Regions from separate parts of the Homo sapiens genome. Here region 1 is linked to region 2. Evidence: fine-mapped expression QTL. A gene starts in region 2. The other region holds a variant in brackets. All regions are shown on one strand. Distances are between the middles of the regions.

The links. PIP is the estimated chance that this variant, and not a neighbour inherited with it, causes the effect. A credible set is the group of variants that fine-mapping cannot tell apart.
Region 1: its variant is the best candidate, but not a certain one, in a credible set for the expression of RILPL2 in whole blood (TOPMed, PIP 0.76).

What each region holds. Positions count from the first base shown.
Region 1 is chr12:123,306,457-123,310,846 of GRCh38, reverse strand. It overlaps SBNO1 (strawberry notch homolog 1), which reads left to right. Exons shown (of 32, transcript NM_001167856.3): 26 at 991-1,137; 27 at 1,264-1,358; 28 at 1,445-1,537. Among named protein-coding and RNA genes, the nearest start is that of CDK2AP1, 37 kb to the right of the region's middle. The variant G/T (reference allele first, on the strand shown) is at 2,546.
Region 2 is chr12:123,434,688-123,439,077 of GRCh38, reverse strand. RILPL2 (Rab interacting lysosomal protein like 2) reads left to right here and starts at 2,394. Exons shown (of 4, transcript NM_145058.3): 1 at 2,394-2,996. The coding sequence starts at 2,658. RefSeq lists a silencer at 2,388-2,647 and an enhancer at 2,489-3,418.

The sequences.
Region 1 (4,390 bases), 130 kb after region 2:
AAATTACTGAAGTCTGCTGGGCACGGTGGCTCACGCCTGTAATCCCAGCACCTTGGGAGGCTGAGGTGGGTAGATCACAAGGTCAGGAGTTTGCAACCAGCCTGGCCAATATGATGAAACCCCATCTCTACTAAAAATACAAAAATTAGCCGGGCCTGGTGGCGGGTGCCTGTAGTCCCAGCTACTCGGGAGGCTAAGGCAAGAGAATTACTTGAACCCGCGAGGCAGAGGTTGCAGTGAGCCGAGATTGCACCACTGCACTCCAACTTCGGCGACAATAGAGCAAGACTCCGTCTAAAAAAATAAAAAAAAATTGGTCGGGCGCGGTGGCTCACGCCTGTAATCCCATCACTTTGGGAGGCTGAGGCAGGCGTATCACAAGGTCAGGAGTCCAAGACCATCATGGCCAAGATGGTGGAACCCTGTCTCTACTAAAAATACAAAAATTATCCAGGCATAGTGGCGGGCGCCTGTAATCCCAGCTACTCAGGAGGCTGAGGCAGGAGAACTGCTTGAATCTGGCAGGGGGAGGTTGCAGTGAGCCAAGATTGCATGACTGCACTCCAGCCTGGGCAACAGCAGAGCAAGACTCCGTCTCAAGAAACAAAACAAAACGAAAAATTACTGAAGTCGGGTGGAGCTCAGACATCGGTAGTTTTCCAAAGCTCCCAGACATTCTAATAGTGCCACTACAGTTGAGAATTCAGTGTTGGAGAACTAACTTTCTTATGTACTGAATTGTGTTCATACTTTCCATAAGTGAGGCTGAAGATGCAAAAATTCAATTTGACAAACCTCTTTTGAGCGTGTCCTGCAGTGGTGCTAATTGCTAGAGAGAGAAATGGGCAGATTACAGCCTTGTTGTGAGGACAGTGTAAGAGTTAAGAAGGAAGACTTTTAGAAGAGAAAGTGGGACTTGAACTAAGCCTAGATGAATAAAAAATTTTTAATTATCATTTGCATGAAAACGTTTATCTTTTGTCATTACAGATTATAACAACATAGGAAAATTCTTAAATAGAATTTTAGGCATGGAGGTGCATCAGCAGAATGCGTTATTTCAGTATTTTGCGGACACACTTACTGCAGTTGTTCAAAATGCCAAAAAAAATGGAAGATATGATATGGGAATCTTAGGTAAGTAGGGAAAATTTCCCCCCCACAATGTCCCCAGGGAAAATGTGGAGTGGAGAAATTCTTTAAACGTGTGTACCTGATAAAAATGTTCTTTTTACATTTACATGTTTCTTTTTCTTGTTCAAGATCTTGGTTCTGGAGATGAAAAAGTGCGGAAAAGTGATGTTAAAAAGTTTCTGACTCCAGGATATTCAACCTCTGGCCACGTAGAATTATACACAGTAAGTTTAGAAAATGTTGTGAAGTATCGTCTTCCCATGAGATGCATTTACAGAAATGAGTTTAAATTTCGTTGTTTCTCTTACAGATTAGTGTAGAGAGGGGAATGTCATGGGAGGAAGCTACCAAGATTTGGGCTGAGCTGACAGGACCAGACGATGGCTTTTACTTGTCATTGCAAGTACGACTTTTCCTTTAAATTCTATTCAGATATATAATACTTTTTAATGGCCAGCATTGTAATTGTCTCTTCACTTTGTACCTGTTTCCCAGTTGTGTTTAGCTTTGTCTATTTTGGTAATTTATCATTGTAATTGTGTGTTTGTCCATTTGTGTTATGTTTTTACTTAATGCATTTTAAAGGATGTTATTAGGTGTGGGTTTAGAATTGTTACATTTTCTTCTTTTTTTTTCTTTCTGAGACAGAGTTTCGCTCTTTGTTGCCCAGGCTGGAGTGCAATGGCACGATCTCAGCTCACCTCATCCTCTGCCTCCCGAGTAGCTGAGATTACAAGCATGTGCCACTAGGCCTGGCTGACATGTATTTTTAGTAGAGACGGGGTTTCTTCACTTTGGTCAGGCTGTTCTCAAACTCCCGACCTCAGGTGACCTGCCTGCCTCGGCCTTCCAAAGTGCTGGGATTAGAGGCGTGAGCCACTGTGCCCAGCCTAATTTTTTTATTTTTAGTAGAGGTGAAGTTTCACCATGTTGGCCAGGCTGGTCTCGAACTCCTGACCTCAGGTGATCTGCCTGCCTTGTCCTCCCAAAGGAATTATAGATGTGAGCCACCACACCTGGCTGAATTAACTTTTTTTTGAGATTGAGTCTTGCTGTGTTACCCAGGCTGGAGTGCAGTGGTGCGATCTCGGCTCACTGCAAGCTCCACCTCCCGGGTTCATGCCATTCTCTTTGCCTCAGCCTCCCGAGAGTAGCAGGGACTACAGGCGCCTGCCACCACGCCTGGCTAATTTTTTTTGTATTTTTAGTAGAGACAGGGTTTCACCGTGTTAGCCAAGATGGTCTCGATCTCCTGACCTCGTGATCTGCCCGCCTTGGCCTCCCAAAGTGCTGGGATTACAGGCTTGAGCCACTGCACCTGGCCAACATTTTCTTAAATTAAGCATTTTTCATAAGACAGAGACTTACTTTAGTCTTAATAATGCTTTATATCTTTAAGACTCATTTTTCA[G/T]TTAGTAAAATAGCTACATTCTTTCAGTTATGATTTGTCTCTGTGGACAGAACTAAGGGGTGTGTGTGCGCACACATCTATACATGTATGTGTAGATACTCAACAGTATGTAGATATTCAGCAGTATCTTGAGTTTCATATTTACTTACTCAGATCCAAGACAACAGAAATTTTATTTCGCCAGTTCTCTAAGATATTTGGGGTTGTGTTGTTTCGTTTTGTTTTGTTTTTTGAGGCAGTTTCAATCTGTCGCCCAGGCTGGAGTGCAGTGGCACGATCTTGGCTTACTGCAACCTCCGCCTCCCAGGTTCAAGCGATTCTCCTGCCACAGCCTCCCGAGTAGCTGGGACTACAGGCACGCACCACCACGCCTGGCTAAATTTCTTATTTTTAGTAGAGACAGGGTTTCACTGTGTTAGCCAGGATGGCCTCGATCTCCTGACCTCAGGTGATCCGCCTGCCTTGGCCTCCCAAAGTGCTGGGATTACAGGCATGAGCCACCGCGCCTGGCATGTGGCTAATTTTTTAATTTTTCTTTTGTAGAGATGGTGTCTCACTATGTTGACCAGGCTGGTTTGAAACTCTTGGCCTCAAGTGATCCTCCCACCTCTGCCTCCCAAAGTGCTGGGATTACAGGTGTGAACCACGCTGCCTGGCCCCTTCGTTCTTTTTTACAAGGCTGAGTAATATTTCATTGGTTGTATATAACATATTTTGCTTTCTGTTTACAAATATTTATGGAGTGACTGCAAGTAAGACCTGGTTCTTGCTCATATGAAGTACCTACATGTATGATGATGGCACAGGCAGGATGAAGTCATAAATGATCTAGGGCAGGAGTTGCTAAACTTTTTCTATGAAGGTCTGATATGTATGGTTTTGTAGGCCATATGTGGTCTATATTGCATGTCCTCTGTGTTTTCCTTCCTTCCTTTCTCTTTTTTTTCCCACCTTCCTTCATTCCTTCTTAATCTTACTTCAGTTTAGGAGTGCCAAGCTAGATTTATTCCACAGGCCTAAGCTGCTGATCCTTGACCTAGAGAAAAGCTCTCAAAGGATCTGGCTCCTAGTTGAGTTGGGGTTTTTTGGTTTGGTTTTGTTTTTTGTAATGGGATCTCGCTCGCTCTGTCACCCAGGCTGATAAGCAGTGGCGTGCGTGATCATGGCTCACTGCAGCTTCAACCTCCTGGGCTCAGACAATCCTCCCACCTCAGCCTCTTAAGTAGCTGGGACCACAGGTACACTCCACCACATTTGGCTTTTTTTTTTTTTTTTTTTTTTAATGCAGTTGATGTCTCACTGTGTTGTCCAGGCTGGTCTCAAACTCCTAGGCTTAAATGATCCTCCCACCTCGGCCTCCCAAAGTGCTGGATTACAGTTGTGAGCTACTGTGCCTTGCTGGTTTTGGGGTTTTTGAAATACTGATTGAACTGTAGGTTGATTTGCATGTCATTATAAGAAACAGTACAGATAAACATCTTGCATACTTTTATCAGTTACCCCAGTGGTAATATTTTTTAAAACTGTAGTGTAATATCACAACCAAGATGTTGATATTGGTAGAATTCAAGTATTTTACTCGGCTATCCCCCATAGATGCAATTTTGATTGGTCCACATAAGGTGTTGGTTATTTTCAGGACAGTCTCGAACTCCTCCTGGGCTTGATCCATCCTCTCACCTTGTCCACCTGAATAGCTGGGATTACAGGCATGCACCACTGCACCTGGCTCTTGGTTATTATTTTTAAATTGAAATTATTGCCAGAATATCACCGTTGGTAGATTGTGATGAAAGTCCTGATCCCCAGCTTCTCTTAGGTTGAAGGATGTGATAATACTGGTCC
Region 2 (4,390 bases):
CGTGTCACTGCACTCCAACCTAGGCAACAGAGTGAGGCTTTTTTATTTATTTTATTTTTTTATTATTTATTATTTATTTATTTATTTATTTTTATTTATTTTTTTTGAGACCGAGTCTTGCTCTGTTGCCCAGGCTGGAGTGCAGTGGCGCGATCTCGGCTCACTGCAAGCTCTGTCCCCGGGTTCACGCCATTCTCCTGCCTCAGCCTCCCGAGTAGCTGGGACTACAGGCGCCCGCCACTACACCCGGCTAATTTTTTTTGTATTTTTAGTAGAGACAGGGTTTCACCGTGTTAGCCAGGATGGTCTCGGTCTCCTGACCTCGTGATCCGCCCATCTCGGCCTGACTTTTTTATTTTATAAAAGTAAAATAGGCCAGGCAGGGTGGCTTACGCCCGTAATCCTAGCACTTTGGGAGGCCCAGGTGGGAGGATTGCCCGAGCTCAGGAGTTCGCGACCAGCCTGGGCAGCACAGTGAAACCCCATCTCTACTAAAATACAAAAAATTAGCCAGGCGGGGCGGCATGCGCCTGTGGTCCCAGCTACTGGGGAGGCTGAGGTAGAAGAATTGCTTTAACCAGGGAGGCGGAGGTTGCGGTGAGCCGAGATCATGCCACTGAGCTCCAGCCTGGGCAACAGAGCAAGATTCTGTCTCTAAATAAATAAATAAACAAATAAATAAAATAAAATAAAATAAAATAAAAAGAAACGACCCTCTGAAAATAGTGTGTTTTGTTAATTTGCTTTGCTTTTGTTGGTTGGTTTAATCTATGTACATTCTCCATTGAGATTCTAGTACCTCAGTGTGGAGAAAATGGATACACCTATCACAAGGAAAGCTGCCAATACATTCCTGGGAAAGACAAGCCCCGTTGCTGAGCTTTCTGCCTGAGACTATCACAAACCTCCAGTGAAACCTAAAATAACTTGAGATTTGTTGTGCCTTTTTTTTTGAGACATGATCTTACTCTGTCACCATGGTCCCACTCTGTCACAGGCACCACTCTGTGGTGAGATCTTGGCTCACTGCAGCCTCAACATCCCGGGCTCAAGTGGTCCTCCCACCTCAGCCTCCCGAGTACCTGCCACTACAGGCATGAACCACTGTGTCCAGCTACTTTTGTTTACTTTTTGTAGAGACAGGGTCTCACTATGATGCCCAAGCTAGTCTCAAATTCCTGGGCTCAAGCAATCCTCCTGCGTCAGCCTCCTGAAGTGTTGAGATTAAGGCATGAGCCACAGCGAATGACTCAAGTTTCTACGCCACTCTGCTAATATTCTCAGTAATATGGATTCCGCATATGTGTCGAATGCTTTGTGATTTTCAGACAGGGGTTTCTCTCTTGTTAATTACTCCTCCTTCTCTCACCCAAGTAGCAAGGTGTCTCCAACACCAGCAATTCCTCCCTAGCGCTGTGGAAGAAAGAATGAAGGGGCCGGGCGCGGTGGCTCACGCCTGTAATCCCAGCACTTTGGGAGGCCGAGGCAGGTGGATCACGAGGTCAGGAGATCGAGACCATCCTGGCGAACATGGTGAAACCCCGTCTCTACTAAAAATACAAAAAAATTAGCCGGGCGTGGTGGCGCGTGCCTGTAGTCCCAGCTACTCGGGAGGCTGAGGCAGGAGAATGGCGTGAACCTGGGAGGCGGAGCTTGCAGCAAGCCGAGATCGCGCCACTGCACTCCAGCCTGGGCGACACAGGGAGACTCCGTCTCAAAAAAAAAAAGAAAGAAAGAAAGAAAGAAAGAATGAAGGATTGCAGTCACGTATGTGAGTGCTTCCTAAGTGCTTGAGGTGTCGCACACATGATCTCATAAGCTCATGTTCCTCGCAGCAACCCTGCCACCTGGGTCCCGCTATTGTCCCCATTTTACAGAGGAGGAGACTGAGGCTCGGAGACGTTAAGTAACTTGCCAAGGTGACAGCGCTGGTTACGTGGAGGAGCCGAGGACCCAGCGAAGTGAGCAGGGCAGACATTCTCCATTTTATTGAGAGTCACAGCGAAGTCGGACGCCCCAGGCCCTAGTGACAATTTGCCTGGGAGTTTTCCAGATCCTCAAGCCTCGGGGACTCTGTCGCGCTGCCCCCAGCAGCTGCTTTCTGTTTGGCCGCAGGCTCCAGAAAACACCCTCAAAGAGACACCCGGATCTTCCATCACCTACGATGCAAATTCTACGGCTGGAAAGCACGAGGGTGGAAAGGAAAAAGTTGCGTTCTTTTTACCCCGCTCTGGATTGCACGGTGGAAACTCCGTCTCCACGGAAACGCACCTCCTGGCAGCGGTCGCCAGGGGCGGGGCTCAGGGCGGCTCCTCCCCGGGGCTGCAACTGTTCCCAGGCTGGGGCGATTGCCGTCACCCCTGAACTTCCCCGTTCCTCTTCTCGGCTGCCTCCTTTTCCGTTGTCCCTTCGCGCCCCAAACCACATCCTGGAGCGCACTCTCCAGCGTGGCTGGCAGCGGGGACGGTGCGCCGGGGCGCAGGCCCAAGAGTCGCGTGCGCGGCCCCTTGCACCATCCCCCCGGGCCCACCCCCGGGCCGCGCTGATTGGGCAGGTAGGGACTCTGCCCAGCGGAAAGTTTTGGGTGCCGGGAGGAAGTCTAACCTTTGGGAGACTCCAAGACAGCAGCTCCGAGGTCGGCGGGGGTCTGGGTGGCCATGGAGGAGCCCCCTGTGCGAGAAGAGGAAGAGGAGGAGGGAGAGGAGGACGAGGAGAGGGACGAGGTTGGGCCCGAGGGGGCGCTGGGCAAGAGCCCCTTCCAGCTGACCGCCGAGGACGTGTATGACATCTCCTACCTGTTGGGCCGCGAGCTTATGGCCCTGGGCAGCGACCCCCGGGTGACGCAGCTGCAGTTCAAAGTCGTCCGCGTCCTGGAGATGCTGGAGGCGCTGGTGAATGAGGGCAGCCTGGCGCTGGAGGAGCTGAAGATGGAGAGGGACCACCTCAGGAAGGAGGTGGAGGGGCTGCGGAGACAGAGCCCTCCGGCCAGCGGGGAGGTGAGTGTGGGAGCGAGGGTTCCGGGCCCACGGCGCCTGCGGGGCGTAGGAGGGCACCTACTGGCAGGGAGACGCCTTCCTTTTCTTTTCTCTTCTCTTTTCTCTTTTTTCTTTTTTTAAGAGATGGGATCTCGCTGTGTTGCCCAGGCTGGTCTCAAACTCCTGGCTCCAAGTGATCCCCCAGCCTCAGCCTCCTAGAGTGCTGGGTTTACAGGTGTGAGCCACCCTGCCTGGCCAGAATCTGTATTTCTAACGAGTTCGCAGTTAATGCTGATGCTATTGGCCCAGGGTCCACAGTTTGAGAACCTTTGACCTAGAGCAAGAAACACTTTTTTTTTCTTTTGACACAGGGTCCTGCTCTATCTCCCAGGCTAGAGTGCAGTGGTGCAAACACGGCTCACTACAGCCTTGGCCTCCTAGGCTCAAGCAATTCTCCTGCCTTGCCCTTCCAAGTAGCTGGGAGTACAGGCATGTGCCACCATGCCTGGCTAACTTTTTTGATGTTTTGTAGAGATGGGGGTCTCACCGTTACCCAGGCTGGTCTCAAACTCCTAAGCTCAAGGAATCCTCCCACCTTGGCCTCCCAAAGTGCTGGGCTTGTGGATGTGAGCCACCACACTTGGACAAGAAACACATTTTACCTAAAGAGAAATTAGTGCATATGACCACAAAAAGACATAGACAAGAAGATTCAGAGCAGCTTTAGTCTCAGCTGCCAAACTGGAAACACTCTAAATGCAACCCAATTGAGTTTTGAAATTGTGATATATGGAATACTATGCAACAGAGAAAAAGAACGGGGTGCTGATACACACAGCAGTGTGAATGAATCTCACAGATGTAACATTGAGAGAAAGAAGCCAGGCACTAAAGAGAAACTACTGTAGATTTTTTTTTTTTTTGAGTCAGAATCTTGCTCTGTTGCTCAGACTGTAGTGCAGTGGCGTGACCTCGACTCACTGCAACCTCCACCTCCTGGATTCAAGCGATTCTCCTGCCTCAGCCTCCTGAGCAGCTGGGATTGCAAGCGTGTGCCACCACGCGTGGCTATTTTTTTTTTTTCTTTTTTGGTAGAGACGGGGTTTCACCATGTTGGCCAGGCTGGTCTCAAACTCCTGGCCTCAAGTGACCCACCCACCTCAGCCTTCCAAAGTGCTGGGATTACAGGCCTGAGCCACAGCACCCAGCCCTACTGTACATTTAAATAAAATTCATGAACAGGCAAAATAATTTATAGTTATAGAAGGCAAACTGGTGGTGGGGGGAAAAGAAGGGAAATTGATAGAGAGCTAGAAGTGTCCCATATCTTAATCAGGGTATGGATATAGGGATCTACACATATGTTAAAAATCATCTGGCTGGGTGCTGTGACTCACGCCTGTAATCCCAGCACT